2 linked regions of the Homo sapiens genome follow. The protein of the gene in region 1 interacts with the protein of each later gene in a biochemical or structural test. Each region holds a gene or a part of one and is shown on either strand. Other genes may lie near its edges.

Region 1 (16,204 bases):
AGGGCATCGGGCTCAGATCAGTTGGGACTGGGTTCAGGTCTCAGCTCTACCACACAGCAGCTGTGTGCCTTTGGGAAGCTATGTTCCCTCCCTCAGCCTTCATTTCCCCATCCCGAGCCGTGCCCTGCCTCATTCACAGGGTGGCTGTGATGTAGAAATTAATCCTGGGAAGCACTTTGTAAATTGCATATATGTAACAAATACCAGGAGTGTCTGCAAAAGGGAGTGTGTGTTTCCAAGACCTTGGTCATCAGTAGAAGTGTATCCACCAGAAGATACACAGCTCTGTGAACCTTCGTGTCTGAGAGCCATGGTATGGCTAGTATAGGGACTTTATTTCACTTCATGTTTTGAGCTGTTTGATTTTATTTATTTATTTATTTACCTATTTATATTTTAGAGACAAGGTCTCTCTTTGTTGCCCAGGCTGGAGTGTAGTGGTGCAATCATACCTCACCTCAGCCTTGAATTCCTGGGCTCAAGGAGTCCTCCTGCTTTGGCCTCTCAAAGTGCTGGGATTACAGACATGAACCACCACACCTGGCCTGGATTTTACTTTTGAGCAGTTGTAGGTTTATAGAAAAATAGAGCTGAACGTACAGAGGGTGCCCATATATTCCTTCGCACCTCCCTGTTCCACCAGTTTCCCCTTTATTCACATCCTGCATGAGTGTGGTTCATCTGTTAGTATTGATGAGCCAATACTGGTACCTTATTATTCACTTAGGTCTGTAGTGTATATTCGGGTTTTTTTTTTTAATTTTTATTTTTTTTGGAGACAGAGTTTTGTTCTGTCACCCAGGCTGCAGTGCAGTGGCACGATCTCGACTCATGCCTCCCGGGTTCAAGCAATTCTTGTGCCTCAGCCTCCTGAGTAGCTGGGACTACAGGTGCGCACCACCACGCCTGGCTAATTTTTTGTGTTTTAGTAGAGACAGGGTTTCACTCTGTTGCCCAGGCTGGTCTCGAACTCCTGAGCTCGGGCAATCTGCTGTCAGGCACCCAGCCTCGGGGTCATTTTTTGTGTTGTACTTACTATGGGCCTAGACAAATGTATCATAATGTGTATGATACCATCATTCTAGTATCATATAAATATATTTGTGCCCTGAAACCCCCGTCCTCCACCTATTCTTCCCTCTTTTCCTCCCCTGAGCCCTGGCAGGCAACCACTGATTTTTTTTTTTTTTTTTTTTTTTGAGACAGAGTCTCGCTCCGTCACCAGGCTGGAGTGCAGTGGCGTGATCTCGGCTCACTGCAACCTGTACCTCCTGGGTTCAAGTGATTCTCCTGCCCCAGCCTCCTGAGTAGCTGGGACTTACAGGTGCATGCCACCATGCCCAGCTAATTTTTGTATTTTTAGTAGAGACAGGGTTTCACCACGTTGGCCAGGATGGTCTCGATCTCCTGACCTCGTGATCCACCCACCTCAGCCTTCCAAAGTGCTGGGATTACAGGCGTGAGCCATTGTGCCTGGCCGATCTTTTTATTGTCTCTATAGTTTTGCCTTTTCCAGATTGTCTTATACGAATCATACAGTAGGTAGCCTTCTCAGACTGGCTTCTTTCTTTTAGCAGTTTGCATTTCTGATTCCTCAGTGGGGAGCCACAGCCATGTCTGAGGATGGACTGGCCTTGCCATGGGACAGGGTTATGTGCCCAACATCCCCCTCTTTGATTTTTTTTAGAGACAGGGTCTTGTTCTGTTGCCCAGGCTGGAATGCAGTGGTGTGATCATGGCTCACTGCAGGCTTAACCTCCTGGCCTCAAGTGATCCTCCTGCTTCAGCCTCCCAAGTAGGTGGGACTACAGGCACACGTCACCACACCTGGCTAATATTCATATTTTTTATAGAGATGAGGTCTTGCTATGTTACCCAGGCTGGTCTTGAATTGCTGGGCTCAAGCAATCCTCCCACCTCAGCCTCCCAAAGTCCTGGGATTGCAGGTGTGAGCCACTGTGCCTGGCCTCCAACATCTCTATCTTTAATAGCTTTATTGAGATATAATTCACGTAGCATAAAATGCACCATTTTAGTGTACGATTCAGTGATTTTTAGTATATTCACAACTTTGTGCAACCATCACCACTAATTCTATAATATTGTCATTGCCTCCCCTAAATATCCTGTACCCATTAGCAGTCACTCCCCATTCCTCCCCCTACCAGGCCCAGGCAACCACCAATCTATGTTCTGCCTATAGATTTATCTATTTTGGACATTTTATGCAAATGGAATCCTACATGGTTCTTTGTGTCTGGCTTCTTCCAAGTAGCCATGTTTTAAAGGTTCATCCATGTTGTAATAAGAATGTATCAGAACATAAAAGGCCAAGTAATATTCCATTGTGTGAATAGACCACATTTTGATTTTTCTATTAATCTGTTGACAGACTTGATTGTTTCCACCTTTTGGTTACTGTGAATAGTGCAGCTAGGGGCACTAACATTTCTTTCTTTCTTTTGAGACCGTCTCGCTCTGTCACCCAGGCTGGAGTGCAGTGGCATCATCTCAGCTCACTGCAACCTCCACCTCCTAGGTTCAAACAATTCTCCTGTCTCAGCCTCCTGAGTAGGTGGGACTACAAGTGCACGCCACCACGCCCTGCTAATTTTTGTATTTTTAGTAGAGACAGGGTTTCACCAAGATGGTCAGGCTGGTCTTGAACTCCTGACCTCAGGTGATCCACCTGCCTCAGCCTCCCAAAGTGCTGAGATTACAGGTGTGAGCCACCGCACCTGTCCTAACATTTCTTTTCTTTTTTTTTTTTTTGAGACAGAGTCTTGCTCTGTCTCCAGGCTGGAGTACAGTGGCACGATCTCGGCTCACTGCAACCTCCGTCTCCCAGGTTTGAATGATTCTCCTGCCTCAGTCTCCCGAGTAGCTGAGATTACAGGCGCCCACCACCATGCCCAGCTAATTTTTTGTATCTTTAGTAGAGACAGGGTTTCACCATGTTGGCCAGGCTGGTCTTGAACTCCTGACCTTGTGATCCGCCCACCTCAGCTTCCCAAAGTGCTGAGATTACAGGCTTGAGCCACTGCACCCGTCCTAACATTTCTTTTTGTCTCATTTCTCTTTGTGGCTAATTATTAAGATAATATAAACTTGCATTAATAAATTTAATGAGAAAGTGTTTAGGCTATGTGTGGCAGCTCACATCTGTAACCCCAACACTTTGGGAGGCTGAGGCAGGAGAATCTCTTGAGCCCAGGATTTCGAGATCAGCCTGGGCACTACAGCAAGACCTCATCTCTACTAAAAAAAAAAAAATGCAAATCATGACCAGCCTGGCCAACACGGTGAAACCTCATCTCTACTAAAAATACAAAAACTATTTGGGCGTGGTGGTGGGCGCCTATAATCCCAGCTACTCGGGAGGCTGAGGCAGGAGAATCACTTGAACCCGGGAGGCGCAGGTTGTGGTGAGCCAAAATCGTGCCACCGCACTCCAGCCTGGGTGACAGAGTGAGACTCCACCTCAAAAAATAAATAATTTTTTTTTTAAAAAAAAGCAAAAAAAAATTAGCCAGATGTAGTGATGCGTGCCTATACTCTCAGCTACTTGGGAGGCTGAGGTGGGAGCCCAGGAGGTCAAGGCTGCAGTGAGCAGTGATCACACCACTGCACTGCTGCCTGAGTGGCAGAGTGAGGCCCTGACTCTTTTTAAAAAAAGGTATTTAATGTAAAAAATAAGACTTTGTTGCATTTCTTTTATTCTCCATTGGTAACCACTCATGCACACACAGTTATGCTGTTGTATGTTTATTTTTTAAAAAATAGGCTGGGTGTGGTGGCTAACCCCTGTAGTCCTAACACTTGGGAGGGAGGCCAAGGTGAGTCAATTACTTGAGCCCAGGAGTTAGATACTAGCCTGGGCAACATAGCAAAACCCCATCCCTACTAAAAATATAAAAATTACCCAGGTGTGGTGGCACACACCTGTGGTCCAGCTACTCGGGAGACTGAGATGAGAAGATACCTGAGCTCAGGGAGATTGAAGTTGCAGTGAGCCGTGATTGTGCCACTGCTCTTCAGACTGGGCAATAGAGTGAGACCCTGTCGCCCTTCTCCCCTACCCTATAAAGGAGTATATAAGTGCATATTGTTCTACAAGCTTTACTTCTTTTTTTTTTTTTTTTTGAGACGAAGTCTCTGTTGCCAGAGCTGGAGTGCAATAGCGCGATCTTGGCTTACTGCAATCTCCACCTCCCTGGTTCAAGCGATTCTCCTGCCTCAGCATGTGCCACCATGCCCAGCTAATTTTTGTATTTTTAGTAGAGACGGGGTTTCACTATGTTGGCCAGGCTAGTCTTGAACTCCTGACCTCATGATCTGCCTGCCTCGTCCTCCCAAAGTGCCGAGATTACAGGCGTGAGCCACTGCCCCTGGCCCAAGCTTTCCTTCTTTTTACAGAGTATCTTGGGCCATCTTTCTGTGTCAGTTAGTTCACAGATCTATTAGTGATGACAATATACTGGATGCACCGTAATAATTTTAACCAACCCCTCTACTGATTTATACTTAGAATTGTTTCCATCTTTTGCCTTTACAAAATGCTCCCCCAGCCTGGGCTACAAGGCAAAACCCTGTCTCTACTAAAAATACAAAAATTAGCCCAGCGTAGGGGTGCATGCCTATAGTCCCAGCTACTCGGGAGGCTGAGGTGGGAGGATCATTTGAGCATGAGAGGCAGAGGTTACAGTGAGTGGAGATCGCACCACTGCACTCCAGCCTGGGTGACAGAGTGAGACCCCATCTCAAAAACAAAAATACAAAAAAAAAAAAATACTCCCTAGTGAATATCCTTGTTCATTTCTCTTTGTGCATATGTAGAATAAATTCCTAGAAGTTAAATAGCTGGGCCAAAGGATCTGAGTATATAATTTTTGAGCAATATTAATAAACCACTTGCTCTAAAGGCTGTACCAGTCTGTCATCCTTCTAACAGTATATGTAACGGTCTCTTGCTATCAGTGTATTTTCTTCCTAAACTTTTTGGTAATCTTATAGTTGAAAAGTAAAGATTGATTTGATGTCCTTTTCTCCGGTAGGCTGAGGAAGTTGGGCCTTTTTTGTGTTTTCTGCTATTGGCCCTGTGTGTTTCCTCTTCTGATCTTGCTTTCTTATGACCTTGGTCCATTTCCCAGTTGTCTTGTTGCCTGCATAATTCTAAGCCTGAAGCCTAGGAGAGGTCTGAATCCGATGTCTCCATAACTCTGGGTTCCTTCTCCCACAGGTGGATGAAACTCAGTTTAAGAAGATCCTCGGCTACATCAACACGGGGAAGCAAGAGGGGGCGAAGCTGCTGTGTGGTGGGGGCATTGCTGCTGACCGTGGTTACTTCATCCAGCCCACTGTGTTTGGAGATGTGCAGGATGGCATGACCATCGCCAAGGAGGAGGTGAGCACTTGGGGCCAGTGCTCTGGAAACATTCTTGGCGGGAGGTGAGGTAAACAGTTCAGCCTGGCATCCTGATGCTGTCACCCATCTGCTGGCTTGGGGCCAGATCTCAAGTTATACCCAGAACCAGTGCCCATAACACGCTATTCATAGTATGTATCTGATCTTGTCCCTCCTCTTCAGCTTGTACCCTCTGTCTGGGAGATCGTCTGCATTCCTCAGCATGGCCTGCAGGCCTTGGTGTCCTGGCCCTCAGAGCCAGGAGTCTAGGAATGACATTGTCTGCTCCTTCCCATGACCTTTTTTCTTTCAGTCAGATTCTTGCTCTGTTGCCCAGGCTGGAGTGCAGTGGCATAATCATGGCTCCTTATAGCCTTGAACTCTTGGGCTCAAATGATCCTCCCACCTCAGCCTTCTGAGTAGCTGGGACTACAGGTGCTCACCACCATGCCTGGCTAATTTTAAAAAAATTTTTTAGTACAGGCTGGGTGCAGTTGCTCACGCCTGTAATCCCAACACTTTGGGAGGCCGAAGTGGGTGGATCACCTGAGGTCATGAGTTCGAGACCAGCCTGGCCAACATGGCAAAACCCTGTCTGTATTAAAAATAAGAAAAAATTAGCCCTGCGTGGTGGCGCTTGCTTGAAATCCCAGCTACTCTGGAGGCTGAGGCAGGAGAATCGCTTGAACCTGGGAGGCAGAGGTTTCAGTGAGCCGAGATCGCGCCACTGCACTCCAGCCTAGGCAACAGAGCGGGACTCTGTCTCCAGTTTTAGCCACGCCTGGCTAATTTTTGTATTTTTAGTAAAGACAGGGTTTCACCATGTTGATCAGACTAGTCTCGAACTCCTGACTTCGTGATCTGCCTGCCTCGGCCTCCCAAAGTGCTGGGATTACAGGCATGAGCCACCACGCCCGGCTTATTTTTTCTCTTCTCGTTTTGAGATGGAGTCTCACTCTGTCGCCAGGCTGGAGTGCAGTGGTGCAATCTCAGCTCACTGCAACCTCTGCCTCCCGGGTTCAAGCGATTCTCCTGCCTCAGACCCTACTAGTAGCTGGGATTACAGGCGCACACCACCACGCCCAGCTAATTTTTCTTATTTTCAGTAGAGATGGGGTTTCACCATGTTGGCCAGGCTTGTCTCCAACTCCTGACCTCAGGTGATCCACCTGCCTCAGCCTCCCAAAATGCTGGGATTACAGGTGTGAGCCATCGTGCCTGGCCAAAAATTTTTTTTTTTTTTTTGAGTAAAGACAGGGTCTCTCTGTGTTTGCCAGGCTGGACTCGAACTCCTAGACTCAAGCAGTTCTCCCACCTTGGCCTCCCAAAGTGCTGGGATTACAGGCATGAGCCACAATGCCCAGCTGACTTAAATTCTTTGACACTAAATCTACGTGTCACGTGTGAATAACATACCTGGCAGGATTGTTTAGAAATGGGATACTGTATGTAAAGCCCGGGGCGCACAGGAGGAAGTTGGCCCCTGTTAGCTCCATTCCCTCTGTGTTCTGCTGAGCTTGATGGCTGTTGTCTTCCCCTGGAACTGTTAGAGCATGGCTGGGGGCTTATCCCCCAATCTGGAATCATCTGTTCTGCTCTGAGAGAGCTCGATGGCAGGTGCCTCCGTGTTGCCGAACCCTCCTACGCTGCTCTCTCACTCCAGATCTTCGGGCCAGTGATGCAGATCCTGAAGTTCAAGACCATAGAGGAGGTTGTTGGGAGAGCCAACAATTCCACGTACGGGCTGGCCGCAGCTGTCTTCACAAAGGATTTGGACAAGGCCAATTACCTGTCCCAGGCCCTCCAGGCGGGCACTGTGTGGTAAGAGCCTCCCAGCAGCCCCTCACAACCCAACAGAGATTCCTCAAAGCCAGGGCCTACTGGAATCTGGTGGTCACCATCCTGGAATTTGGGGAGCTGGGCTCAGTTTCTCCTGGGTCAGGGTGTGATGTCGATTTGAGAGGTCCTGCTACCTCACCTCCGAAGGATCAAGCTTCTCTGTGGTGCAAAGGCCCTGCACCTGAACTTGGCAGGCAGCGGAGTGGTGGGGCTCCTCCCCAGCTGCCTCAGGGCAGGAGACCAGAGCAGAGGGACCCATGATTGTGACACTGATCCTAAAAGCTTAGCCTCTGCTTCACACTTAGCCCCCACTAGGATGGCTATATTTTTATTATTTATTTATTTTTAGTTTTATTTTTTCAGACAGAAAAAAATATTCTACCCAGGCTGAAGTGCTGTGGGGTGCGATTATAGCTCACTGCAGCCTTGAACTCCTGGGCTCAAGCAATCCTCCCACCTCTGCCTCCTGAGTAGCTGGGACCACAGGTGTGTACCACCACACCTGGACAATTAAAAAACATTTTTATTTTTTGTAGAGATGAGATCTCGCCATGTTGCCCAGGCTGGGCTATATGTATATATATTTTAAAGTATTGGTAAGGATGTGGAGAAATCGGAACCCTCCTATGTTGCTGATGGGAATGGAAAATGGCACACTCATTGTGGAAAATAATTTGGGAGCTCCTCAAAAAGTTAAACATGAAGCCCCCATATGACCCAGCAATTCCACTCCTAGGTATTTATCCAAGAGAAAGAAAAACGTGCTCCCACATAAAAACGTGTATATGAATCTTCACAGCAGCATTATTTGTAACAGCCAAAAGGTGAACACAACCCAAATGTCCGTCTGTAGATGAATGGATACAGAATGTGATCTGTCCATGCAATGAAATGTGGCTCAGCCACAGAAAGGAATGAAGTAGCTGTATGAGTCTGTTCTCACACTGCTGGTAAAGACATTGCAGAGACCGGGTAATTTATAAAGGAAAGAGGTTTAATGGACTCACACAGTTCCACGTGGCTGGGGAGGCCTCACAATCATGGTGAAAGGTGAAAAGCATGTCTCACGTGGTGGCAGACAAGAGAAGAGAACTTGTGCAGGGAAACTCCCCTTTATAAAACCATCAGATCTTGTGAGACTTACTCACTGTCACAAGAATAGCATGGGAAAGACCTGGCCCCATGATTCAATTACCTCCCACAACACGTGGGAATTGTGGGAGCTACAATTCAAGATGAGATTTGGGTGGGGACAAAGCCAAGCCATATCAGTAGCCATGCATGCAATAGCATGGATTAATCTTGAACATAACATTGAGTGAAAGAACCCAGACTGTCTGGGTGCGGTGGCTCATGCCTGTAATCCCAGCACTTTGGGAAGCCGAGGTGGGTAGGTCACTTGAGGTCAAGAGTTTGAGACCAGCCTGGCCAACATGGTGAAACCTTATCTCTACTAAAAACACAAAACTTAGCTGGCTGTGGTGGCAGGTGCCTGTAGTCCCAGCTACTCGGGAGGCTGAGGCAGGAGAATCGCTTGAACCTGGGAGGCGGAGATTGCAGTGAGTGGAGATCATGCCACTGCGCTCCAGCCTGAGCGATAGAGTGAGACTCCAAAAAAAAAAAAAAAGAACCCAGGCACAAAAGGCCACATGCTGTGTGATTCCATTTACAGTATTATAAATATCTAGAATAGGCGAATCCATAGAGATAGAAAGTATGTTAGTGGTTGCCAGGGGCTGGGGGAGGGAGGAATGGAGAGTGCCTGCCTCCTGGGCACAGGGCTTCTTTCAGTGTGATAGAAATGTTCTGCAATTAGACAGTGGTGATGGTCACACAACACTGTGAATATGCTGTCAACCAGTGATTGTACACTTTAAAATGGTGAATTTTAGGCTGGGTGCAGTGGCTCACCCCTGTAATCCCAGCACTTTGGGAGGCCAAGGTAGACGGATCACGAGATCAGGAGATGGAGACCATCTTGGCCAATGTGGTGAAACCCCGTCTCTACTAAAAATACAAAAATTAGGCCTGGGCCTGGTGGCTCACACCTGTAAGGCCGTGGTGGTTCACACCTGTAATCCCAGCACTTTGGGAGTCCGAAGTAGGTGGAACATGATGTCAGGAGTTCAAGACCAGCCTGACCAACATGGTGAAACCCTGTTTCTACTAAAAATACACAAATTAGACGGGTGTGGTGGCATGCACCTGTAATCCCAGCTACTTGGGAGGATGAGGCAGGAGAATCGCTTGAACCCGGGAGGCAGAGGTTACAGTGAGTTGAGATCGTGCCATTGCACTCCAGCCTGGGTGACAGAGCAAGACTCTGTCTCAAAAAAAAAAAAAAAAAAAATTAGCCGGGCGCAGTGGTGGGCACCTGTAATCCCAGCTACTCAGGAGGCTGAGGCAGGAGAATCACTTGAACTTTAGAGGCAGAAGTTGCAGTGAGCCGAGATCGCACCACTGCACTCCAGCTTGGCAACAGAGTGAGACTCTGTCTCAAAAAAAGAAAAGAAAAAGGGCAGGGCGCTGTGGTTCACACCTGTAATCCCAGCACTTTGGGAGGCCAAGGCGGGCGGATCACGAGGTCAGAAGATCAAGACCATCCTGGCTAACACAGTGAAACCCCGTTTCTACTAAAAATACAAAAATTTAGCCGGGTGTGGTGGCGGGCACCTGTAGTCCCAGCTACTCGGGAGGCTGAGGCAGGAGAATGGCGTGAACCTGGGAGGCGGAGCTTGCGGTGAGCCGAGATCGCACCACTGCACTCCAGCCAGGGCGACGGAGCGAGACTCTGTCTCAAAAAAAAAAAAAAAAAGAAAATTAAAAATAGGCCAAGCGTGGTGGCTCACACCTGTAATCCCAGCATTTTGGGAGGCCAAGGCAGGCATATCACGAAGTCAAGAGTTTGAGACCAGCCTGACCAACATGGTGAAACCCTGTCTCTACTAAAAATAGAAAAATTAGCTGGGCATGGTAGCATGCACCTGTAATCCCAGCTACTCGGGAGGCTGGAGATTCGCTTGAACCTGGGAGGCGGAGGTTGCAGTAAGCTGAGATCTCACCACTGCACTCCAGCCTGGGCAACAGAGTGAAACTCCATCTCAAAAAATAATCTCAAAAAATAATAATAATAAATAAAAATAAATAAATAAATGGTAAATTTCAAATTCAAATAAAATTTAATAATTTTTTTAAATTGCAAAAAAAAAAAATGAAAGAAAAGAAAAGAAAGCCATCCAGGTGCAGTGGCTCATACCAGTAATCCCAGTGCTTTGGGAGCCTGAGGCAGGAGAATTACTTGAGGCCAGGAGTTCGAGACCAGCCTGGGCAACATAGTGAGACCCCATCTCTACAAAAAATAAAAGATAAAAAAATTAGCCAGGCATAGTGGCACATACTTGTTATCTTAACTACTTGGGAGGCTGAGGCAGGAGGATCACTGAAGACCAGGAGTTGGAGACCAGCCTGGGTAACATAATCAGACCCTGTCTCTTAAAAAAAAATTTATTGCCAGGCGTGGTTGCACGTGCTGGTAGTCCAGCTACTCAGGAAGCTGAGGCAGGAGAATCTCTTGAACCCCAGATGTGGAGGTTGCAACGAGCCAAGATCATGCCATGGCAACTCCAGCCTGGGCAACAGAGAAAGATTCTATCTCAAAAAAAAAAATTTTTTTTTAAGTTAAAAATAAAATAAAGACTTTGGGGCAATACAGGGGGTCCTGGGAGTGTAACCCATAACCCCCAAGAGTGATTTCTGCAATCTCGTTTCAAATTACAGGGTCAACTGCTATGATGTGTTTGGAGCCCAGTCACCCTTTGGTGGCTACAAGATGTCGGGGAGTGGCCGGGAGTTGGGCGAGTACGGGCTGCAGGCATACACTGAAGTGAAAACTGTGAGTGTGGGACCTGCTGGGGGCTCAGGGCCTGTTGGGGCTTGAGGGTCTGCTGGTGGCTCGGAGCCTGCTGGGGGATTGGGGTCTGTTGGGGGCTCGGGGCCTGCCAGAGGTTCAGGACCTGCCGGGGACTCAGGGCCTGCTGGAAGTTCAGGACCTGCTGGGGATCAGGGCCTGCCAGGGATTTAGGGTCTGCTGGGCGGGCCACCTTTTGGCCTCTCCCTCATGCTTGAGGCCATCAGTGTTTCCTACTAATTTCCCATTTTAAGCCTGAGAAGTGACAAGAGAGGGTAAAGACCCAGCCTCTGCTCTGTCCCATGAGAAATACTGAGGGACGTGCCCCCATCAGGCCTATGCGGTCATTTGCTGGGCTTCGTTATACGCCAAGGCCTGTAGGCCTGAGAAGAGGGAGAGACTTCAGGGGGCGGAGCGGAGAGGAAAAGCTTCTAGTAAGAATCTTTTCAGATTTTCACCAGGCGCGGTGGCTTTTCACCGGGCACGGTGGCTCACACCTGTAATCCCAGCACTTTGGGAGGCCAAGGTGGGTGGATCACGAATGAGGTCAGGAGTTTGAGACCAGCCTGACCAACATGGTGAAACCTTGTCTCTACTAAAATACAAAAATTAGCCAGGTGTGGTGGCGTGCGCCTGTAATCCCAGCTACTCAGGAGGCTGAGGCAGGAGAATCGCTTGAACACGGGAGGCGGAGGTTGCAGTGAGTCGAGATTGTGCCATTGCACTCCAGCCTGGGCAACAGAGCGAGACTCCGTCTCAAAAAAAAAAAAAAAAGAAAAGAAAAAAGAATTAGCTATTAGGTTGGAATGGAGCAATTCCCACAGTAATAAAAATATTTAAAAATAAATAATACAAACATAAGCTATTAGGCATGAGATATCAAGGCCCATAACCATATGCATCTCCTTTGATTTGCAACTTCAATGACTGGAATATAGCCTGAAGGACCCATCAGAAATACAAAGAAAGCGTTCCTTCCATAAATATTCATCACTGCTTTATCTCTAAGAGGGGAAAATCAGATGTAAACTTAATGCCCAATAAATTATGGAACACCCCAATCAAGGAGTAACAGGTATCTGTTACAAATGTTTTTGTAGAATATTTGATATGAAAAATGCTTAGCCTTTAAAGTAAAAGCAGTATACAAACTAATATATCATCAATATAAGCCCAATTTTTGGAATTTATGTACATAGATAGATACTCAGATACATTTACTTATAAATATAAAAAAAGAAAGGAAAAACTGGAGCGTGGTGTTGCATGCCTGTAGTCCCAGCTACTCGGGAGGCCAAGGTGGGAGGATCGCTTGAGCCACAAGTTTGAAGCTAGCCTGGAAAATGGGTTGAGCAGGCCTTTCCAGGATTGGAATCACCAGGCTGGAGTGTACTGGTGCCATCACAGCTCACTGCAGCCTCCACCTCCTGGGCTGAAGTGATCCTCGCATCTCAGTCTCCCGAGTAGCTGGGACTACAGGTGCACATCACCATTCCTGACTAATTTTTGTATTTCTTGTAGAGATGGGGTCTCACTATGTTACCCAGGCTGGTCTCAATCTCCTGGGCTCAAGTGATTCTCCTGCCTTGGTCCCAAAGTGCTGGGATTATAGGCATGAGCTACCACACCCAGCCTGGCTCTCAGTTTTGTAAGTCGAAAAACTTGGACAGGCCAAATTGAAGAGTCATGTTCGCCAATTTCATAAGCGATTAATTTGGCAATGTAGCAAGATACCATCTTATTAAAAACAAAATGGCCGGGCGCGGTGGCTCACGCGTATAATCCCAGCACTTCTGGAGGCTGAGGTGGGTGGATCACAAGGTCAAGAGATCGAGACCATCCTGGCCAAGATAGTGAAACCCTGTCTCTACTAAAAATACAAAAATTAGCTGGGCGTGGCGGCACATGCCTGTAGTCCCAGCTACTTGGGAGGCTGAGGCAGGAGAATTGCTTGAACCCGGGAGGTGGAGGTTGCAGTGAGCCAAGATTGCACCACTGCACTCCAGCCTGGCGACAGAGTGAGACTCAAAAAAAAAAAAAACAGGCCGGGCGCAGTGGCTCACACCTGTAATCCTAGCACTTTTGGAGGTTGAGGTGGGCAGACCACGAGGTCAGGAGATCGAGACCATCCTGGCTAACATGGTGAAACCTCGTCTCTACTAAAAATACAAAAACAAAATTAGCTAGGTGTGGTGGCAGGTGCCTGTAGTCCCAGCTACTCAGGAGGCTGAGGCGGAAGAATGGCGTGAACCCAGTGGGTGGAGCTTGCAGTGAGCCAAGATCGCACCACTGCACTCCAGCCTGGGCGACAGAGCGAGACTCCGTCTCAGGAAAAAAAAAAAAAGAAAAAACAAACAAACAGGGAAATATACACTGAAGTGAAAATGATTTACTGTGAATACTAATTATAGTTTAACCAGAAAACATAAACACAAGTGATGTTTAAGGAAGAGGCAAATGGGTTGAGCTAGCCTTTCCAGGATTGGAAAAGAGGAGGCTCAGGGCAAGCCTGCCAGCTGTGGAGCAGGTGAGAAAAGGCAAACGGGACTCATTCAGGGCCACAGTGCCAAGCCTGAGACTGGAGAGGCCGAGGACACAACCTGTGTTCCTGAATAGCTCACTGGAATCAACTAAACGTGTTTACTTGTTTAGTGTGGAAACTTTCCAATCTATGCAAAGAATAGGTATAATGGTAGAATGAGGCCAGGAGTGGTGGCTCATGCCTGTAATCCCAGCATTTTGGGAGGCCGAGATGGGCAGATCACTTGAGGTCAGGAGTTCGAGACCAGCCTGGTCAACATGGTGAAACCCCATCTCTACTAAAAATGCAAAAATTGGCCAGGCTGGTGGCATGTGTCTGTGGTCCCAGCTGCTTGGGAGGCTGAGACAAGAGTTGCCTGAACCCGGGAGGTGGAGGTTGCAGTGAGCTGAGATCGCGCCACTGTACTCCAGCCTGGGCAACAGAGCAAGACTCTGTCTCAAAAAACAAACAAACAGACCGGGCATGGTGGCTCACGCCTGTAATCCCAGCACTTTGGGAGGCCGAGGTGGGCGAATCACAAGGTCAGAAGATCCAGACCATCCTGGCTACGGTGAAACCCCATCTCTACTAAAAATACAAAAAATTAGCCAGGCGTGGTGGCGAGTGCCTGTAATCCCAGCTACTTGGGAGGCTGAGGCAGGAGAATGGTGTGAACTCGGGAGGCGGAGCTTGCAGTGAGCCGAGATGGTGCCACTGCACTCCAGCGTGGGAGACAGAGCGAGACTCTGTCTCAAAAACAAAACAAAACAAAACGGAAAAAAAAAAACAGTAGAATGAGCCTCTGTATCCCCACCATAAAGCTATGACAAAGATCAGCTCACAGCCAGTCTTGTTTACTGTATACCCCACCCACTTCCCAGTGGGTACACTTCATCCACTGCCCGAGCAGAGTCCACAACAGCAGGAGGTGGCCATGTGGGTGGACAGCCTGTGCTGGGCTTTGAGTTATGACATCGGATAAAAGGTCCAACTTCAGTTGGTGAGTCTTAAATCTTGGCACATGACTAGTGTTAAGGAGGCGATGTCCAGGATGGCCACGTGACAGGGTGGTATCTAAGCTGATATACCTGAAGGATGAGTGGAAGTAGAGATGGTGAGGGGAGGAAGAGAAGAACGTACTAAACAAAGAGCATAGCTTCTGGAAAAGCTGTGATGGCGAGAAATATGGCTCTTCCAGGAACTGCAGGAAGGTTGCTGGTGGTGGAAGATGTAGTGGTTAGTGGGGAGAGAGCAAGGCCAGAATGCACAGGCCCTTGTTGGCCATGATGTGGGGTTTGATGTCTTTGATAATGGAGTTTGATCTCAGCTATGGGAGCATTTTAAGTAGAAGAATTAGGTGGCTCAATTTTTTTTTTTTTTTTTCTGAGCCAGAGTCTTGCTCTGTTGCTCAGGCTGGAGTGCAGTGCTGTGATCTTGGCTCACTGCAACCTCCGCCTCCCGGGCTCAAGCGATTCTCATGCCTCAGCCACTTGACTAGCTGGGATTACAGGCGCCTGCCACCACACCTGGCTAATTTTTTGTATTTGTAGAGATGAGGTTTCACCCTGTTGGCCAGGCTGATCTCGAACTCCTGGCCTCAAGTAATCTGCCTGCCTCGGCCTCCCAAAGTTCTGGGATTACAGGTGTGAACCACTGTGCCTGGCCCACTCAATTTGTATTTTTAAAAGATTGCTCTGCTTAATCTATAGAGACAGAAACTTATTACTGGTCATCTAGGGCATGGGGAATGGGTAGTGGCTGCTCATGGGTGCAAGATTGCTTTTGGAGATGATGCAGATGTTCTAAAACTGGAGTATGGTGATGATTGCACAACTTAAAATATTCTAAAAGCAATTACACTTGATTGTGCATAAATCATATCTCAAGAAAGTTGTTTAAAAATTTAAGAAAGCGGCCAGGCGCGGTGGCTCACGCCTGTAATCCCAGCACTTTGGGACACTGAGGCAGGTGAATCACCTGAGGTCAGGAGTTCGAGACCAGCCTGACCAACAAGGTGAAATCCCTTCTCTACTAAAAACACAAAAATTAGCAAGGCTTGGTTGCAGGTGCCTGTAGTCCCACCTACTCGGGAGGCTGAGACAGGAGAATTGCTTGAACCTGGGAGGCAGAGGTTGCAGTGAGCCGAGATTGCGCCACTGCACTCCAGCCTGGGCAACAGAGTAAGACTCCGTCTCAAAAAAAAAAATTTAAGAAACCTCACTCTGCTTGCCCTAGGGAGAATGGACCATCCAGTATGAGGAGGGATGAGGGAGCTGTCAGGAGACTGCTCCAAGGAGAAAGATGGTGGTTTGGATTGGAGTGGTGCAGTGCAGGTGGAGAAAAGAGGGTATATGTGACAGGAAGCCAGGAGTAGGATTGGCGACTCTGGATATAGAGAGGAAAAGCAAAACTAGGAATCAAAGATGGCACCCAGGTTTCCAAGGAGGGGTTGAGTGGTGACGCCAGTCCTGTGATAGGGAACACTGAATGAAGTACTGTGGTTCTCTTTAGGGTTGTGTTTGGGGTACCTGTC
Region 2 (15,184 bases), on another chromosome or scaffold:
GAGGAAATCCCCCAGGGGATGGGTATATTGAGATCAGTATTGTGCCCCTTTTACAGATGATAACTGAGGCCCAGAGAAATTAAGAGACTGTCTAAGGCCGGGCGTGGTAGCTCACGCCTATAATCCCAGCACTTTGGGAGACTGAGGCAGGTAGATCACAAGGTCAGGAGATCGAGACCATCCTGGCCAACATGGTGAAACCCCATCTCTGCTAAAATACAAAAAAAAAGTTAGCTGGGCGTGGTGGTGGGCGCCTGTAGTCCCAGCTGCTCGGGAGGTTGAGGCAGGGGAATCACTTGAACCCAGGAGGCAGAGCTTGCAGTGAGCTGACATTGTGCCACCGCACTCCAGCCTGGCAACAGAGTGAGACTTCGTCTCAAAAAAAAAAAAGAGACTAATGTCGCCAGATTTATTGGAGATGGCCCAGTGTCCAAATTAAGAGCCTGCTTAAGGCCAATTTAGATGTTTAAAATAGGAAACTGCTTAAAGCCAGGAGGCAGCAGTTAGGGTTTGGGCCCAGTTAACAGAAGGTCCAACCAGGCTTCCCCAGTAAATGGGAGCAGCCTACTTGGTAGAGAGGAAGGTAGCAGCCACGGGTGAGTAGGACCCCTGCCTGGCCAACTGGGCCCCTTCCCCAGCCCCACTGCACCTTTCCCCAACAGGAACAGAGTCATCCAGCCAATGGGGATGAGTCCCCGGGGTCATCTTACGTCCCTGCAGGATGCCATGTGCGAGACTATGGAGCAGCAGCTCTCCTCGGACCCTGACTCGGACCCTGACTGAGGATGGCAGCTCTTCTGCTCCCCCATCAGGACTGGTGCTGCTTCCAGAGACTTCCTTGGGGTTGCAACCTGGGGAAGCCACATCCCACTGGATCCACACCCGCCCCCACTTCTCCATCTTAGAAACCCCTTCTCTTGACTCCCGTTCTGTTCATGATTTGCCTCTGGTCCAGTTTCTCATCTCTGGACTGCAACGGTCTTCTTGTGCTAGAACTCAGGCTCAGCCTCGAATTCCACAGACGAAGTACTTTCTTTTGTCTGCGCCAAGAGGAATGTGTTCAGAAGCTGCTGCCTGAGGGCAGGGCCTACCTGGGCACACAGAAGAGCATATGGGAGGGCAGGGGTTTGGGTGTGGGTGCACACAAAGCAAGCACCATCTGGGATTGGCACACTGGCAGAGCCAGTGTGTTGGGGTATGTGCTGCACTTCCCAGGGAGAAAACCTGTCAGAACTTTCCATACGAGTATATCAGAACACACCCTTCCAAGGTATGTATGCTCTGTTGTTCCTGTCCTGTCTTCACTGAGCGCAGGGCTGGAGGCCTCTTAGACATTCTCCTTGGTCCTCGTTCAGCTGCCCACTGTAGTATCCACAGTGCCCGAGTTCTCGCTGGTTTTGGCAATTAAACCTCCTTCCTACTGGTTTAGACTACACTTACAACAAGGAAAATGCCCCTCGTGTGACCATAGATTGAGATTTATACCACATACCACACATAGCCACAGAAACATCATCTTGAAATAAAGAAGAGTTTTGGACAAAAATGTATGTGTAAATTATCAAATAAAGGGGCCAGGCACAGTGGCTCATGCCTGTAATCCCAGCACTTTGGGAGGCCGAGGTGGGTGGATCACTTGAAGCCAGGAGTTCGAGACCAGCCTGGCCAACATAGCAAAACCTTGTCTCTATTACAAATATGCCCATGTGCTAGGTGTGGTGGGACACACCTGTAATCCCAGCTACCCAGGAGAATCGCTTAAACCCGGGAGGCGGAAGTTGCAGTGAGCTGAGATCATAACACCGCACTCCACCCTGAGTGACAGGGCAAGACTCAAAAAATAAAAAAGGAACATTAACTAGGGTTAGAAACTAACTTCATTCTTTTTAGAATTCAACAGTTTTCCTAGGTCACCAATTCCACCTTTTGTTCTTATTAAGGCGCAAAGTCACAGGACCCCCTTCCTGGGAGTCACTGTCATTAAATCTATTGCCGTCAGCTCAGCCCAGGGTAGGCAAGGTTCAAGAATGGGAAGTGCTTTTGTCTGGGGAAACACGCAGGTAATGTGATGCTAGGAAGGAGGATGTGCAGGTGGGTGAGAGCCCAGGAGGGAGCAGCTGGTGCCTGACAGGGTGAGCCATCAGGGCTGGGCCTGGGTACAGCCCCAGGAGAAGGAGCCTGTGCAGAAGTAGCAGTTCAGTGGATTCCACCTCCTATGTCACAATCCAGCAGGTGGCCAGGACTCAGCCTGGGTTTTAAGTGAGTAATGCCTTCCCTGTCTCAGAGATTAGCTCTAACAGTGTCACTAGAGGAAGCCCTGGCGAGGGTGGGGGGGCGTAGTGTGGGGACAAGGAGGCCAGATAGAAAGTGCTGGAATGTTCTGGAACAGATCTGTTTCTGGAGGAGAGGCTGAGTATGGAGAGTCAACAGAATGTGACCACCTTCAGAGGGAGGAGCTGGGCCGTCTCCAATAAATCCAGGGACAAATGCCTTCAGTCCTCAGACTGTTCCAATAGAGGGGACGCCACGTATCCCAGGGTTCCCTTTCCAACTCATGTCAACACCTGCAGTCCCTTTGAGGAGACTAAATGTATTTCATGCTGGAAAGAACAGATTTTCTCTCATTAAAAATAGCCCCACTAAAGGAGACCAACATGCTAGAAGTGCGGCACCAGGGCCTCAAGACTACACTTCGGAACATGAAGAGGGCTGGGGACCGCTCGGCCCAAGTCTGGATCTTGTAACCAACAGATGCCGAGCTTGCCGTTCAACTAGGCACAGAAAGCAGACTCGGTCTGGGATTCCAGTTGGTCTGATTCAGTTCAAGAGGGTCACAGTCAGAAGAAAGCTTTTTCCATTAGGAGCTTCAGCAGAGTGAAGAGTTCAACACAGCAAACAGGCAGGCAGCTCCTTTGTATATGTGACGGGGTGGCCCTGACTGTAAACACAGCCCTACCAGTCACTGCAGCTCATGGCCTGAGAAGACATTCCAGTGGCAGCCTCGGGTGTCCACTCAGTTCACATATTCTGGTTTCACCTGCCCAAGCTGTCTTCAGGCATGAGGTCTTGTCAGAATTGGGATGTGGATGTCTCCTATGTTACCATTTATTGTGTGGGGGCAGCCATCATCCTATTTGTCTGGTCCATCAAGCTGGAATACAGAAGACAGAGGGTATCAGCTATCTGTTTACACACCCAGGCAGGCCAGCAGATCTCTGTTCAAACAGCTCTAGCTGCAGACATGCAAAATATTTCACAAAACAAGCTGCTTTCTGCAAATACTGCTGCTGCTGTGCTGGGCTAAGAGGATCCCAGCAGGCCTGGGCAGAACAGGGTGGCTAAATGGAGAGCCTCATTCTATGGGTCTTAAAGTACCCAAATCAATATGTACTGATGCTCATGTGCTTAAAAGCATTCACTATTTGGAAAAGTAACCCCTTGGATAGTAATGCTGTAAAAAACAGAAAATGAAATCATAACCCATTTTACATACATTTCTCTGAAACTAGATTATACAGTTCAAATCCTATTAAGCCACTTCCAAAACTCCACAGGAGCTACCAGAGTTACAATCTGCTTTTCTATGAAAACAGGAAGTTGGGCCGGGCCTGCTGGCTCATGCCTATAATCCCAGCACTTTGGGAGGCTGAGGCAGGTGGATCACCCGAGGTCAGGAGTTTGAGACCAGCCTGACTAACATGATGAAATCCCATCTCTAATAAAAGTACAGAAATTAGCCAGGCATGGTGGCACATGCCTGTAATCCCAGCTGCTCAGGAGGCTGAGGCAGGAGAATCACTTGAACCCAGGAGGCAGGGCTGCAGTGAGCCAAAATCGTGCCATTGCACTCCAGCTTGGGCAACAAGAGTGAAACTCCATTACAAAAAAAAGAAAATATGAAGTTGGAGCAGGAAAAGGATCCCTCAAAAAAGCCTGCTGGGCTGATCTAAGATCTCCGCTGCCTTGTGAGCTGGCCAGGAGGCACTCGCCTCTCAGCGTTTAAGCCTCATTGTTAGCTGGGTTCCCTGCCTCCATAATGAAGTGACCATGATTGGTAAAAAATCAGCCTGCAACCAGAGGTTGGAGGTCTTGGACTGGTGGAGGTGAGGAGAGTGCTGACCCCATGGCCCTGAGCCATGAGGCAGCCACAGCTGTGGACAAGGAAAAAGGATCAGGATTTCCTAAGACATCTGCCTTGGAAGGCAAGAGGAGCATCAACTGTGATATATTGTAGTTGATATGGTTTGGCTGTGTCCCCACCCAAATCTCACCTTGAATTGTAATCATCCCCATGTGTCAAGGGTGGGGCCAAGTGGAAGTAACTGAATCATGGGGGCGGGTCTTTCCCACACTCTTCTTCTGATAGTGAATAAGTCTCACAAGATCTGATAGTTTTATAAAGGGCAGTTCCCCCGCACACGTCCTCTTGCCTGCCACCTTGTAAGACAGTACTTTGCTCCTGCTTTGCCTTCCACTATGATTGTGAGGCCCCCACAGCCATATGGAACTGTGAGTCCATTAAACCTCTTTCCTTTATAAATTACCCAGTCTCAGGTATGCCTTTATGAGCAGCCAGAGAACAGACTAATACACTGGTGAAATCCCCTTTGGACAGTGTTACACCTGCCTGTAATCATGACACTGGACTTTAAATGCTTAATGCTACCACCTCCCATTGAAAACCCTTAATATCAAGGCTACACATGCTACATGATTCTTATGGGAAACTGCATTTTCTGTAACTTCACTTGTTTATAGGCGGTTTGAAATCTCTTAGAAAGCATCAAGGCTCTTTGGCTTTCCTCAGCGGATTATAATTGATCAATGGCTCTCATACCAATTACTTCCGAAAAGCATCACTCATGTAGCCTTCATCCCACATAGATGCAGAGAACTTTAGCTTCTCAAAGTTCTTTAACCCGTATCATCTTAGAATCACATACCAGGCCTTAGAGGGACACTGTTGGCTGCTTTATTTTAGGGAGTGAAGGTAACGCCTATAGTCTGTTAAGAATACAGACTCATCAGCCCTGAGTGTCTGGACCGTGTCCCTGCTTGGCCTGTTAGCATCTGTTTCCTCATCTCTAAATGGAGGTATTGAAAGTAACACCCAGTCAGGTCCAGGTAGTGCCTGGTGCAGGATTCACAGCATCATCAGCTATTACTGTTACTGTGTTAACCAACGGGGCTCCATATCAGGTGGACCATACCCTAGAGCAGTGAGAAGGGCAGCCCCTTGGATGGTCCTCCTCAGCAGTCTGTACCTTCCCAGTTTCCCGCTGCACAAGGTCCCGCATCTCTTCTGTCCAGCCCAGAAGCTCCACTAGGCTTTCCACGCCGTGAACCACGTCCCCCAGCTGGGCCACGTCCCTGCTGCGAGGATGCCAAGCCAAGGGCCCCACCAAGTCCCGGTTGATGAGCAGTCGGGGAACTGAGCTCCGCACGGCCTCGGTCAAGCTGGCAAAAGGCTCCACCTGAAAAATGGGCCAAACGTGAGGGGCACAGTGTCCACTTTACAAGCTCCTCAGGATGTTTCATGCCACAGCCACCGAGGCCTTGGAGGAGCAGCAGATTGGCAGTCAGAGCCTGCGATATAGGGAAAACCCACCACCAATCTCATTTCTTCAGCTGAGCTCCTGCCGCTTGGCCTCCGTGACGGTTTTCTCCCCTCCGCCTCTCTCTCTCTCTCCCACTTCTTGCTGTTTCCACACATCCTTGCTTTTCCCCACCTCCGTTCCAAGGCTCATCAGGGATCCAACCTTCCTGCCTCCTCTTTGTGAGCACGTTCTGTTCTCCCTGTCCTCCCCACCTCGCTGTCTCCCAGCATGACGCAGAGGGACAACAGCACAGACTCGTCCATCTCCTCTGGCTAGCCCTGCTTGCTCTGACAGCCACCACCAGCATCGGGCACCCAGACGAGCTGGTGCCCCCGAGCAGGAGTTACTGTTACGTCTCTCCATGGTCTTCCCCACCCAGCCTCTAGAGAGGCCTAGCTCGGTGCCATCAGGCTTCTTCATACAGCTCTCAAAGCTTCTTTTAAGAGGAACAAGGTAAAAAAATGGATACATTAATAAATGGCATTAAAACTGGCTCATTATCTGGGAGGAAAATACTCCATTCCTACCTCCCACTGAAAAAAATTCAAATGGATTAAAGGTTTCAATGTAAACAAAACAGTTCTTGAAGAAAACTAAGGATTTACAAGTAAGGATAGGGAAGAACGTTCTAGGCGTAAAAACTGAAGTCAGATAAGGCAAAGGAAAATGACAGATCTGACTATGTAAATACTATTATCTCGGTATCTACATAAAACTACTATGTAGAAAATTTAAAATTTTTAAAAACCTCTCATCATCATAAACTGCAAAAATATTTACAACATATGACAATAGTTTATATTGCTAATTGATAAACTCATTTATAAACATATAATTTATGAACTAATTTATAATGCTAATTTATAATGAAATTTATATTAACAGCTGGGCATGGTGGTTCACACCTATAATCCCAGCACTTTGGGAGGCCGAGGCGGGCAGATCAGCTGAGGTCAGGAGTTCAAGACCAGCCTGGCCAACATAGTGAAACCACGTCTCTACTAAAAATACAAAACTTAGCTGGGCGTGGTGGCACGCACCTATAATCCGAGCTACTCGGGAGGTTGAGGCAGGAGAATGGCTTGAGCCTGGGAGGTGGAGGTTGCAGTGAGCCGAGATCGCGCCACTGAACCTCCAGCCTGGGAGACAGAGCAAGACTCTGTCTCAAAAAAAAAAAAAAAAAAAAGAAAGAAGTTTATATTAACATTAAAATGTAATTATATTATTTAATTTATACTAAAATTAAAACTAATTTATATTGCTAATTTATAATGACCCAATGAAAAATGGTCAAGAGGTACAAATATACAATCCAAAGAGAAGAAACACAACTGGCAATAAACATGAAAAGATGAACTTCATTCTTTACTACAGAAAGGCAAAATCCGCACCCCCCTCCACACACACACATGCATTTTTTAACCAATTTGATTTGTGTGATTTTGGTTTTGGTGAGGATGTGATAAAATGGCTACATAAAAACACAGTTTGTGGCAGTGTAATTGTTACATCTTTCTGGAAGGCAAGTTCTCAATATTTATCAGCATTTACCCTTCAGGAGTTCTTGCATGGGTAGATAAGGATGATACACAGGGATATTCACCACAGCATTTACCCTTCAGGAGTACTTGCATGGGTAGATAAGGATGACACACAGGGATATTCACCGGAAGGCAAGTTCTCAGTATTTATCAGCATTTACCCTTCCAGAGTACTTGCATGGGTAGATAAGGATGATACACAGGGATATTCACTACAGCATTTACCCTTCAGGAGTACTTGCATGGGTAGATAAGGATGACACACAGGGATATTCACCGGAAGGCAAGTTCTCAGTATTTATCAGCATTTACCCTTCCAGAGTACTTGCATGGGTAGATAAGGATGATACACAGGGATATTCACTACAGCATTTACCCTTCAGGAGTACTTGCATGAGTAGATAAGGATGATACACAGGGATATTCACTACAGCACGGGATCTCATTCTGTTACCCAGGCTGGAATGCAGTGGCATGATCATAGTTCACTATAACCTCAAATTCCTGGGCTCAAGCAATCCTCCTTCCTCAGCCTCTCAAATAGCTGCAACTACACAGACCATGCCTGGCTATCTTTTTATTTTTTGTAGAGACGAGGTCTGACTATACTGCCCAGGCTGGTCTCAAATGCCTAGCTTCAGGCAATCTTCCTGCCTTGGCCTCCCAGAGTGCTGGGATAACAGGTGTGAGCCACGGTGCCTGGCCCAGCATTACTTTTAATGTAAAAATTATATACTATTTATTATCATTGTCCATCAGTAAGAAATTGCTTACATAAATTTTGTATTAAATCCACAAAATCTATGTTAAAGCTCTTGTGGCTGAATATGTTTCAGAATTTTTGAGATTTTAGAAAAGATCATATGGTTTACATCCCACGTTATGTCACACCTAAAGGGGATCTGGAGTGGTACTCCACAGTCAAACACATTAACATTTCGTCCACAAAGCACATGAGATAGAGTCTGTGCGTGACACCAGCTCATTCAGTTCATGATGGCACCAGCCTTACAGACATGGGTTTCTCAGTTGGGACCTCATATCCGTGTAAGGGAAACTGTTGGCATTAACAACGCAGCACATCTCCATGGACTCACATTGTTACGTGAAAACAGCAGGCTGCAGAATAGAATGTACAGTGCTGTCCAACTTTTAGTTTAAAATTACCATCTGTACGTATGCATTTGTACAAAAAAAAGAAAGCTGAGAGGACACAGAATAAAATGCTAACAGTTGGTGGGATTAAAAAGTTGATCCTTTGCTTTATATCTTTATATAATGTACGAATCTTTTCAAAGACACACATGATACACTTATAATCAGGAAAAAGGCCATTTTCATTTCACTTCAACAATAAAGATGGCTGGTGGCCCAAGTGTCCACACCTGGTGGCCAGCACGGTCAGCTGGTCTCAGCCCACACTGTGCTGACCACCATGGCCCCTCTGACTGCTCCTCCTGTGTCTGTCCCTCCATCCTAGGCCTAGCATGGCATTCTCATGTCTGTCCACACCCTGGGCTCTCCTGTCTGCTCACTCCAGCACCCCAGCTCCTGCCTCTGGGCCTTCCTGGACTCCAGACTCATGTCCACCTGCTCAACACCTCCAGTCCGCAGCACATCCTCAAATCCGTGGAAACAAGGCTGAGTTCCTGAGCTCCCCCAAACCCACCTACCAGGCTTCTCCATCTCAGGAAGCGGCGGCTCCGTCTTTCCAGCTGCTCCAGCCACAGCCCTGGGGTCCTTGGGAATCCACGGCCTCCCATGCACTGTGCCAGCGTACCCACTCTGCGTTCACACACACCCAGACTCCAGCACCCCTCAGCCTCTGCTGGCTTTACCTGGCCCCCAGCCAGTGCCAGCCGGTGATTACCTACAAGGGCCCTGCTGGGTCTGCTGCTCCCAGTCTTGCCCCCATGGTGGGCTCACAGCCCAGCACCCAACGGAGTCCTCTCAACTTCAGACTCTGGCCTGGAACCCAAGCTGAACCCATTCACCTTCTGAGGTGGCGCCAGCCTCCCATGAGATGACACTTGTGCCCCACCTTCTTCTCTGCTCCAGCCCCGTGGCCATCAATGCTGACTTCGCCCCACCCTCCTTGCTGCTTGTCACCTGTGCAGTGTCCCCTGCCAGACCCTCCTCACCTCGGTAAACTCTTAGATCCAACTCCACCTGCCTGACTTGACACTGCAGCTGGTTCCCAACCCTTCTAGCCTTTCTATCCTACTTGTTATCTTTCTCATAACATCAATCATCTCCTAACAAACTATATAACTTCTTACACTGACATCTGACCGTGTATGTCCAAAGCACTGGAGCAGGGCCCAGCACACAATGAATGCCTGAACAAACACATGCTCTGGGCCCCTGTGGCTGCCCTGGGCCCCTCTGAGCACAGGTCTTTCTGGCCCTTCTGTCCTCGGTGCCTACATCCAGTCACGCACACACTGACTTCATGGTCTCATTTCTTGCTCTCATCACAGCTTTTAGGAATTTCCTGAGCTGCAGACGCAGACGCAGAACAGCTGCTTGAACACATCCAGGGCATGTTTCCCGACACCTCAGACACACACAGAACCGAGCTGGGCATCCTCCCTCCCAAATCACGCCTCACCAGCAAGTGCCCTGACCTTACAGACCAAGCCAGACGCCTCCTTCTCACGTCCCCAAAACATCACAGACTGCGAGTCCAGTCCCCCTCCTCGCCATCCCTCAGGCGACCACAGCTCCACCTTCTCCAGGACCAGCCTCCTGGCACTGCTTGCTCCACTCTCCACTCCCCAAAGGCCTCCCTGACCCCAAGGGTGCAGCTACGTCCCCGGGCCAGTCCCTGTGGATTTATCACTCCTCCCACTGCAGCATCAGTATTCCTGATCTGACCTGGGAGGCCCTGCCCCTCCACCTCGCCCCCACACCCCCATCCTTCTCCCTTCTCCTCACACGTGGTGCCCCACCCACACCTATACCACCTCCAAAGCCCAGCAGCTTCCCACCTTCCTGTCTCCTGCACAGGCTGCTGCTCCCTCAGCCTGGAACCCCAGCTGAATCCATTCACCTTCCCAAAGTGGCACCAGCCCTGGAAGGGCCCATGAGATGACTCCTGTACCCCTCCCTTCCCCTGCCCTCCAGCCTCCTCCCTGCACAGGCCTGCCGACAGCCCATGAGATGACTCCTGTACCCCTCCCTTCCCCTGCCCTCCAGCCTCCTCCCTGCACAGGCCTGCCGACAGCCCATGAGGTGACTCCTGTACCCCTCCCTTCCCCTGCCCTCCAGACTCCTCCCTGCACAGGCCTGCCGACAGCCCATGAGATGACTCCTGTACCCCTCCCTTCCCCTGCCCTCCAGCCTCCTCCCTGCACAGGCCTGCTGACAAACCTCCAGGGAGGTCCCAAGGATGAGCAGCAGATCTGCCATGGGGAAATCAACCACATGCAGCAAGAACCTCTGGGGCAGCGGCTCCCCAAAGAACACAATGTCGGGCTTCACAACGCCGGTGCAGACCGGGCAGCGGGGAACCCTGTCTGCCATCACGTCAGCCTGGAAAACAGAGAAAACAGGCCTGAGGAAGATGCCTGCAACACCCTGTAAAAGGAAAAGGCAACAAGTTCTTATTAAAGTCTCAAACATTCTCCCCCAAAAAAGGTGAGAGAGGGATCATGAACCCCCATGTACCCAGCTTCAGGAATTACCAGTTTTCATAGCTAATTGTTTCACAGCCCTCCGGAATCTGGGAGGAGGTATTGGAGCCTTTAAAAGCAAATCTTGGACATCATATGTTTCACCCATAATTACTTCGGCAGGCATCTAGCGTATCTAACACCATGCTCTATCCCTGGGATGGCAGCCAGAGACATCCAGGCGCTAAGGAAACACCTGGTAGACCACACCAGTCCTCAAACAGTAGTCTGCAGGCATTTGGCCTACACCGAACACTATTCAGTCAGAAAGGTGAAACTGTCTCTGGTTTGAGCTTCGGTGATCATGCCATTGCCTCAGCCCTGGGAGGCATTCAGGTCAGCTTCACTCACTGGCTGGCATTATTAGGAGTAACAACATCTGCCAAACACTGCTTCCTTACTGGCCAAGGTGAAGTGGACACAACTTCCCTTTGCGTCAAGATTAATATAAATAAATGCCTTGGAGCAGATGGAAAAGGGAGAGAGTTACAGAGGAAGACACCTGACTTTCTAAGGTAAACCTTTACAGCTAACGGGGCTTGTTTTAAGCAGGCTCAGCCCAGCAAAAAGCAACAGATACAAAAGACAAAAGAAAGAGACCCACGAAAGATTTCAGATATTCTTGGATACACAGTAAAACTGTATTATATTTAAATTAAAAAGAAAAAACTGTTATCTTGGAGGCATGGGGTATAGCAAAAAAAAAAATTAAGGAAGCAAAAAAAAAAGATGAACTTGAAATATCTATCAAAGGCCAGGCGCAGTGGCTCAGCTCTGTAATCCCAGGACTTCGGGAGGCCGAGGTGGGCAGATCACGAGGTCAGGAGATCGAGACTGTCTTGGCCAACATGGTGAAACCCTGTCTCTACTAAAACACAAAAAATTAGCCAGGCGTGGTGATGCGTGCCTGTAATCCCAGCTACTTGGGAGGCTGAGGCAGGGGAATCACTTGAACCTGGGAGGCGGAGGTTGCTGTGAGCTGAGATTGCACCACTGCACTCCAGCCTGGGCAACAAAGCGAGACTCTGTCTCAAAAAACAAAACAAAACAAAACAAAACAAAAAACTATCTATTAAAGATATAAAATTATTAAAAAATTATGTAATAATGTAGCAGACTTGAAAAATAACCAAATAGAACTTCTAGAAATAAAAAGTACAGGAACCAAAATTAAAACTCAATGTCTGTTTTGAGTTGCTGTTTGGGAAAAAAGAAAGAAAGAAACACTCAATGGAAGGACCTTATAACAGAATACAATATTAGTAAACTGGAAAAAAGACCAGAAGAAATTACCCAGAATGCAGCACAAGAAGCAGCAATTACAGGACAGAAGAGTGATCAGGAACAGCAGGAGAGAGAAGGTCTAATGTATGTTCAATCAGAGGTCCCTAAAGAGAGGGGCCAGATAGTGGGCTAGGGGCAACTCATATCCGAAGAGATAACGGCAGAGTATGATCCAGCAACCATGAAAGACGCCAACCCGCAGATTCAGGATCTCAAGCAAGTGAGGGCTACTGAGCCAGCCTGAGGGTGCCCACAGGAAAAACATGAGTCACGGCACATCTGTGCTTGTTTCTGTCCCAAGAGGTTCTCAGGAGGTTTAGTAATTACATGTGGTCCTTCAAAGAGGGAGGGTGGCTGTGAGGTGAGTGGTTACGTACTTGTGAGACTTCAGTAAGTGCCCAGTAAATGTACATTTTACCTAAGATAGAAGGAAACAGAGGAAGAGAACTAAGCAGACCTCTCAGGGAAGGGTGAAGGAACCATTAATCTCATCTTGTCTTTAATCTGTATCTGGGAAGATAAACCAGTAATCCACATTAGCAGTGTAGAGTCTTTGAAAAGGGCTGGTTTCTGTTTAGCCCTTAGTGAAGAAGCCTAATGGTGGCTGGGGAGGGAGGGGTACAGTGAGGCGCGTCTGACCTCCTCTCCTGCTACGGCCAGGAACTCAAGCTTCCAAGGTTTCTCTGGGGTTCCCTTGACCAAGGGGAGGGCTCCATTCAGTTGGTTGCAGGGCTTAGAATTTTATTTTATATTTTATTTTTTTGAGATGGCATCTCGCTCTGTCACCCAGGCTGGAGTGCAGTGGCATGATCTCGGTTCACTACAACTTCTGCCTCCTGGGTTCCAGCAATTCTCCTGCCTCAGCCTCCCGAGTAGCTGGGATTACAGATGGGTGCCACCACAAATGGCTCATCTTTGTATTTTTAGTAGAGACGGGGTTTCACCATGTTGGCCAGGCTGGTCTCAAACTCCTAACTCAGGTGATCCACCCGCCTCAGCTTCCCAAAGTACTGGGATTACAGGCAGGAGCCACCGCGCCCAGCCTAGAATTTTATTTTATTTTTCTTAAGGAAGGCCTACAATTATTATTATTATTTTTTTTTTTTTGAGATGGAGTTTCGCTCTTGTTTCCCAGGCTGGAGTGCAATGGCCTAATCTCAGCTCACCGCAACCTCCGCCTCCCTGGTTCAAGCAATTCGCCTGCCTCAGCCTCCCGAGTATCTGAGATTATAGGCATGCACCATCACGCCCGGCTAATTTTGTATTTTTAGTAGATATGGGGTTTCTCCATGTTGGTCAGGCTGGTCTCAAACTCCTGACCTCAGGCGATCCACCCACCCGGCCTCCCAAAGTACTGGGATTACGGGCGTGAGCCACCATGACCAACTGGCCTACAAATTTTAAGCAGAAGAAATAAAAGAAAATTCATATGGAAAACCACAGTGGAGAAACCGCAAAACTCCAAAGACAAAAGTCTTAAAAAACAGGCAGAGAGGCCAGACACGGTGGCTCATGCCTGTCATCCCAGCACTTTGGGAGGCCGAGGCGGGTGGATCATGAGGTCAGGAGTTCGACACCAGCCTCACCAACATAGTGAAACCCCATCTCTACTAAAAATACAAAAATTAGCTGGGCATGGTGGCGCATGCCTGCAATCCCAGCTACTCAGGAGGATGAGGCAAGAGAATCGCTTGAACCTGAGAGGGGGAGGTTGCAATGAGCTGAGATCATACCACTGCACTCCAGCCTGGGCAACAGAGCAAGACTCTATCTCAAAAAAACAAAAAATCCAAACAACAACAACAAAAATAAAACAGGCAGAGAACAGATAGCAACAGTTTCAGAAATTTATATGAAAAGCCAAAAGATTCAGACCAGCCAACACAGTACTGAAGGAGAAGAACAAAGGTGGGGAATTAACATCAACCTGTTGCCCAAATTATCTATTTTATTCTCTTATTTATTTATTTATTTTGTTTTGAGATGGAGTCTCACTCTGTCACCCAGGCTGGAGTGCAGTGGTGCGATCTCAGCTCACAGCAACCTCCCCTCCCAGGTTCAAGCAATTCTTCTGCCTCAGCCTCCTGAGTAGCTGGGATTACAGGTGCACCACCACACCTGGCTAATTTTTGTATTTTTAGTAGAGATGGGATTTCACCATTTTGGCAGGCTGCTCTCAAGCTTCCCACCTCAGGTGACCCGCCTGTCTAGGCCTCCCAAAGTGCTGGAATTACAGGCGTGAGCCACTGTGCCCAGTCCCAAATAATCTCTTTTAAATGCAAATCCCTTCACATCATTTTCCTGCCTAAAAATCCTCCAATGCCTCCCATGATCGTCAGGATACAGTTCAAACCCTAACAGAGCAAGCAGGCCTCCCACACTCCAGGTCTCTGCTGCCAGAAACAGACTCTTACATCCAGACGGCCTCATCTCAAAGGTGCTTCCCAGCCTACTCTGTTCCTACAGCTGAGTCAGTGTAGTGTCCAGTACATATTTATAGTAAAATTCGTATGGCACCCAGTTGTAACTGTTGGATGACTCCACCTTATTTTAATTTCTATTCACATCCACAGAACCCAGCAAAGGGCCTGGCACTGAGGAGACTAAACTATTTGTTGAATAAATTGGTCATTCAATGAATGAGTTGACCAAAACAATAATACGTATATATCAAGTTTCTACTATGTGCTGGACTCACACTTCCTAATTTCAAAACTTACTACAAAGCTACAGTAACCAAAACATTATAGTGCAGGCACAAGGATATACAGATAACAATGGAATAGAATTGAGACTCTAGAAATAACCCATACACCTATGGCCAACTGATTTTCAACAACAATGCCAAGACCACAGTTTTTTTAAACAAATGGTGCTGGAACAATTACATATCCACATAAAAGAAAATGAAGCTGGATCCCTACCTTACAGCGCACACAAAAATTAACTCAAAATGGATCAAAGAACTAAATGTAAAAGCTTTAAACTATAAAACTCTTATAAGAAAACAGGAGTAAAACAATACCATTTCTCAGATATGATTCCAAAAGAGTGAGAAAATAAATAGACAAACTAGATTTCATCAAAA

What was found.
Region 2: the proteins of ALDH2 (region 1) and SIRT3 form a complex in vitro, tested with the Homo sapiens proteins (one study listed by BioGRID).

The regions. Positions count from the first base shown.
Region 1 is NC_000012.12:111,792,839-111,809,042, forward strand, and holds part of ALDH2 (aldehyde dehydrogenase, mitochondrial isoform 1 precursor), read left to right. Parts: intron 1-5,239; coding exon 5,240-5,404; intron 5,405-6,995; exon of another isoform or gene 6,996-7,067; coding exon 7,068-7,225; intron 7,226-11,020; coding exon 11,021-11,135; intron 11,136-16,204. UniProt on the Homo sapiens protein: Required for clearance of cellular formaldehyde, a cytotoxic and carcinogenic metabolite that induces DNA damage.
Region 2 is NC_000011.10:213,568-228,751, forward strand, and holds the end of SIRT3 (NAD-dependent protein deacetylase sirtuin-3, mitochondrial), read right to left. Parts: intron 12,515-15,184; exon of another isoform or gene 12,106-12,514; intron 10,673-12,105; coding exon 10,511-10,672; intron 6,034-10,510; exon of another isoform or gene 5,475-6,033; coding exon 5,265-5,474; coding exon of another isoform or gene 5,211-5,264; intron 3,152-5,210; coding exon 3,131-3,151; 3' UTR 1,463-3,130; downstream 1-1,462. Other genes in the region: RIC8A (chaperone Ric-8A), read left to right, coding at 663-783.